Regions from separate parts of the Homo sapiens genome. Here region 2 is linked to region 1. Evidence: fine-mapped expression QTL. Tissue or cell type: monocytes. Region 1 holds a variant in brackets; the other region holds the start of a gene. All regions are shown on one strand. Distances are between the middles of the regions.

Region 1 (2,844 bases):
CACACTCCCAACACCCCCCCATCCAGTAGCTTCATGTGACCAGGGCTGGGGCGAATCTCCGAGCAGAGAGAAGAAATTGAGTGTGTGACAGTGTGAATGGATGTGACTATAGGTGAGCAACAGTCGGTGACAATGTGCACATCTGGTATTTCCTGTGTGAGAGCAAAACTGCAGGACTCAGTGAGTGGTTTCTGTGGTTTGCACTTGTGTATCTGGGTGTATGGGAGTGTGTAGCCCTGCTGACTGTGTAGATATGAATGTGTGTGCAGTTGTGAGTCTTGCATGTGGTCATCTATGTGAAACAATGCCTGTATAAGTACCCATGGATGTGCACGGTTTTGCCTCTAGCCGTGCATTTCTGGTTCTGTGTGTGTGTGTTTCTGGTTTTTTCGTTTGTTTTTTAGAGATGGGGTCTGGCTGTGTTGCCCAGGCTAGTCTTAAACTCCTGGGCTCAAGCGATCCCCGCCGTCTCAGCCTCCCGACTAGTGGGGACTACAGGCAAGCGCCACTACACTCGGCTAATTTTCTGGTTTTTTTTGTAGAGACAGGATCTTGCTGTGTTGCTCAGGCTGGTCTCCAATTCCTGGCCCCAAGTGATCCTCCCACCTCGGCCTTCCACCACAGTGCTAGGATTATAGGCATGAGCCACCGTGCCTAGCCATGTGTGTTTCTGGATTTCTGTGTGTAACCATGCAGGTACCTGCGTTTGTGTACAGATTATTTTTCAGAGCTCCCTCCACAGCATTCATTGCAATGTCTAATTATATATTTGTTCCTTTGTTTACTGTCCATCTCCCCCACTGGACTGTGCACCCTGTGAGGGCAGGACCCAAGGCTGTTGTGGTCACTGCCAGGTCCCCAGCACCACCCTGCACAGAGAAGGTGCTCAGTAATTCCTTGTTGGGTAAATGAATCGATGACTCTTATGTCCATGTCGAGCACACACATCCATGTAACCCTGCAAGTGATTTTGTGGTACTGGGTCTTCTGTGTGTGTCTAGAAGCTGCGTGGGCCATAGCACAGGAGGGTCTCTGTAGCCATGTAGCTCTAATTTTTGGCACCCCCCACAGTGCAGGGCACATATCAGAGCCTCATGGCACATATCAGGGCCACGTGGAGTAGGAGGCCAGGTGCACTGGCTCACACCTGCAATCCCAGCATTTTGGGAGGCTAAGGCAGGAGGATCACTTGAGACCTGGAGTTCAAGACCAGCCTGGGCAACAAGGTGAGACCCTGTCTCTACACATAATACAAAAATTAGGCCAGGCGCAGTGGCTCATGCCTGTAATCCCAGCAATTTGGGAGGCCAAGGAGGGTGGATCACCTGAGGTCAGGAGTTCGAGACCAGCCTAGCCAACATGGTGAAACCCCATCTCTACTAAAAATAAAGAAAAAAAAGCCAGGCATGGTGG[T/C]GGGTGCCTGTAATCCCAGCCACTTGGAAGGCTGAAGCTAAAGAATTGCTTAAACCCGGGAGGTAGAGGTTGCAGTGATCCAAGATCACGTCATTGCACTCCAGCCTGGGCAACAAGAGTGAAACTCCGTCTCAAACAACAACAACAACAATAAAAACAAAACGAAAATTAGCCGGGCATGGTGGTGCACACCTGGAATCCCAGCTACTTGGCAGGCTGTGGTGGGAGGATCATCAGAGACCAGGAGATCAAGGCTGCAGTGAGCTGTGATTACACCACTGTACTCCAGCCTGTACAACAGAGTGAGACTTTGTCTCAAAAGAAAAACAAAAAACAAAAACAAAAATTTAAAAAACCCCTAAAAACTATGGATTTGAACTCTGTTGTCTTTTTTTTTTTTTTTTTTTTTGAGACAGAGTCTCACTCTGTCACCCAGGCTGGAGTGCAGACGTGTGATTCCGTCTCACTGCAACCTCTGCCTCCCGAATTCTCCTGCCTCAGCCTCCCAAGTAGCTGGGATTACAAGTGCCTGCACCACGCCCAGCTAATTTTTGTGTATTTTTAGCAGAGACGAGGTTTCACCATGTTGGCCAGGCTGATCTCAAACTCCTGACCTCAAGTGATCCACCTGCCTCAGCCTCTCAAAGTGCTGGGATTACAGGCGTGAGCCACCGCGTCCGGCCGAACTGTGTGGCCTTCCTCCTGCTAGCATTAGGACCTCTATGCACTCGGTTTCCTCATCTGTCAAATAGGGAGAATAATAGACCCAGTTTATGGGACTGTTGTGGGAGAGTAAATGAGTTCATATGGAAAGCATTTAGAAAATGCCTGGCAGAAAACAAACATTTACAAAATACCTGTTTTGATTGTTGTCAGTATTATTACTTCCTCTGTGTGTGTCCTTGGATGTGCGTGTGCGTGTCTAGAATCTGGGTTGCAGATGCAGGCTTTAGCTCTGTAGTCCTGTGTTACTGGGTACCCAAATGCCCTGAGTCTCACTTTCCTTCCTATACCATGGGCATGTTCCAGACCTTCTCCAGGGCCAGTTGGGACTCAATGAAGCTGCATCTGGAACACCCCAATGGCTACAAGGCCCAGCCGTGGTCTGGTTTCAGGAAAGGTAAATGAAGGGTGAAGTTGGGACGGGATGGAATTGAGGTTCAAATCACTCCATGGGACTGGGAAAGTGGGAAGTGAAAGAGGGATGAAAGAGCGCATTTGAAGCAGGCAGACTGAGGGTCAGACTCCAGAAAGGACTTCCTCCTAGGACTATTTTGGGGCTGGGAACTATAAGAAATGAACTGTTTTGCTGGGCCTGGTGGCCTACACCTGTAATCCCAGCACTTTGGGAGGCCGAGGCAGGCAGATCGCAAGGTCAAGAGATCAAGATCATCCTGGTCAACCTGGTGAAACCCCATCTCTACTAAAAAT
Region 2 (2,672 bases), 29 kb before region 1:
TGCACTCCAGCCTGGGCAAAAGAGCGAGACTCTGTCTCAAAAAAATAAATAAATAAATAAATAAATAGAGTAGGAAGGTCCTCTCCCCCATCATGCCCTACATCCTTAGCCCACTTTCCTTTTCTTCATAGCCAATGCTCATCACCCGTCGATTGTTTTCCCTTGGGAAGGAGATTTCAATATTGCCAGGTCCTTCCATTTACCAAAATATGTCTAAAGTGTAGATTTTTTTAAGATTGCAAAACCTGGCGATTCTTAAACACGAGCAATAAATTCATGTCTTGAAAAATCAGGGTGCTGGCCTCGTAAAACACATCAGGGGCTACCTGCTGAATGCCAGTGTCTGGCCTCTGCCTTAGCCCTCTCTTAGAACCACCCATCCATTTCACAGATGGGGAAACTGGGACCTGGGGAGGACCAAGGACTGTTTCCCCAAGTCGTCCGTGGCCCCCAAATCCACTAACCCACACCCTGGTCCCACAGGCCCCATCCTATCCTCTTCGTCCTAACAGCCCCCAGCCTCCCAGGGGCCCCGCATCTCCTTGTCCTACCACTCCAGGAGGGACCTCATCCTCGTCGAGGGGTATCACAAATTTCTTCCTTGCTGGCGGCCCTGAGGGCTGGGGCACCCCCTCTTTGTCCTTCCCAGGGTCCATCTGGAGCCTGAAAGGGAAGGTGCCAGGAGCGAGTGAGCCACTGGCGTCTACGTTCTCATCCCGCAGCAGGAACCCCCCACTCACAGCCGTCCCCCACAAAACTCCGAGAGCTCCATAGCGTCAGGTCCCCAACACCCAGCGCTAGAGGCTCTGTAACGCCACGCCCCTTTGACCTCCACCTTCGGCTCGCCCCGCCCCTTACAGGTCCACAAGTCCCATCGCTCCGCCCCTCGCCCCCACCGGATTCTATTGGCTCCGTCCCCACCATCCCCCGCCTTCCGTTCGTCCGGCCCCCGAGGCTAGCATCTGGACGCCCTCCCCACGCCTGGCCTTGTCCATCTCTCAGACTCGGCAATGATTGGCTTCCGCGGCGCCAATCTCCACCCGCAGTCTCCGCCTCCCGCACCTGTGGTCCGGGCCTCACGGTTTCAGCGCCGCGAGGCCTCACCTGCTGGTCTTGGAGCCTCAAGGGAAAGACTGCAGAGGGATCGAGGCGGCCCACTGCCAGCACGGCCAGCGTGGCCCAGGGCTCGCAGCACTTCCGGCCTCTCTGGCCCCGCTCCCCAGGAGAGTAGAGCATAGAGCAGGGCGATCTCTGTACAACTCTCTATGGTTCTGGAGGACCGCGGAGGTCGTGGGAGGAGAGAGATGTGGCCTGAGGATCTGGCTCCCAAACTGTTAAGTTTCAAAGCCCTTACTGAGCGCTTCTGTGTGCCCAGAATCCTGGCAGGGCTCAGTGGAGAACAGATCGCAGGAGATCCAACTTGGTCCCTCCTCTCAGTAAGGAGAGACTTAAGTTTGAATCCAACTCAGACATTGACTTGGCTTCAGTTTCCTCATTCATTCATTTATTCCACACCTATTCCCCCCACGCGCTTCCTCTCTTCCCGGTCCTGTGCGAGTCCGTGCTGGTGACACAGCAGTGACCAACGACAGCCCCGTGTTGTCCTCCCGGAGCTTACGGTTCAGTAAGGGACACAGACACGTTCCCAGTGCTGACCCAGAATGGGCAGGTCTGGGATGGGAGATCCCGGGAGAGCCGTGGGATGGGGGTCAGGGGGAGCGCCTGACTCAGCCCCGGAGTCCGGAAGGGCTTCCTGGAGGAAGGGACATCTGAGCAGGGGCCTGGCTGATGAGTTAGTATTAGTCACTTCCTGAAAGGATAGTATCACACTGTTCTAACTTGCAGCTCTCTGATTACTAAGGAAATGGAATGTTTTTTGTGAAAGTATTGGTCTTGTAAATTTTGTCTTCTGTGAATTGCTTGCTCATATTCCTTGTCCATTTTTAAAATGGGTTGTATGGCTTTTTTATTACTATTAATTTCTAGGGGTACTTTATGGATTCTGATTCTAATCCTTAGTTACCCATATTGCAAACATTTCCTCCTAGTTTCTACTTTGGGCTTTAACTTTAGTTATTTTTGGCACAGAAGTTATTTGTGTTTATGCGCAACTATTTATCAATCTGTTCCGTTCTGACTTTTGCTTTTGGTGTGTTAAGAGCCCTGCCATAACCCAGGGTCATAATGATAAATTCTTTTTTTTCTTTTTTTTTTTTTTTTCGAGACGGAGTTTCGCTCTTATTACCCAGGCTGGAGTGCAATGGCGCGATCTCAGTTCACTGCACCTCCCCCTCCCGGGTTCAAGCGATTCTCCTGCCTCCTTAGTAGCTGGGATTACAGGCATGTGCCACCATGCCCGGCTAATTTTTTTTTTTTTTTTTTTTTTTTGTATTTTTAGTAGAGACGGGGTTTCACCATGTTGGCCAGGCTGGTCTCAAACTCCTGACCTCAGCTGATCCTGAGGTCACTTTGTGACCTCCCAAAGTGCTGGGATTACAGTGCACGGCTATAATGATATATTCTATCATTTCTTTTATCTACGTAAAAGATAAAAGCCCCGTGTTGTCCTCCCAGAGCTTACAGTTCAGTGAGGGACACAGACACGGTCCCAAACAGTAATGACCTAGAATGAGCAGGTCATCTGGCTTTAATCTATGTAAGATTTATTTATT

The links. PIP is the estimated chance that this variant, and not a neighbour inherited with it, causes the effect. A credible set is the group of variants that fine-mapping cannot tell apart.
Region 2: ERCC1 starts here. The variant in region 1 is the best candidate, but not a certain one, in a credible set for the expression of ERCC1 in monocytes (TOPMed, PIP 0.83).

What each region holds. Positions count from the first base shown.
Region 1 is chr19:45,451,582-45,454,425 of GRCh38, forward strand. No RefSeq gene overlaps it. Among named protein-coding and RNA genes, the nearest start is that of FOSB, 15 kb to the right of the region's middle. The variant T/C (reference allele first, on the strand shown) is at 1,414.
Region 2 is chr19:45,422,719-45,425,390 of GRCh38, forward strand. ERCC1 (ERCC excision repair 1, endonuclease non-catalytic subunit) reads right to left here and starts at 1,199. Exons shown (of 10, transcript NM_001983.4): 1 at 1,063-1,199; 2 at 552-663. The coding sequence starts at 656. RefSeq lists enhancers at 1,185-1,274, 1,335-1,384, 1,633-1,927.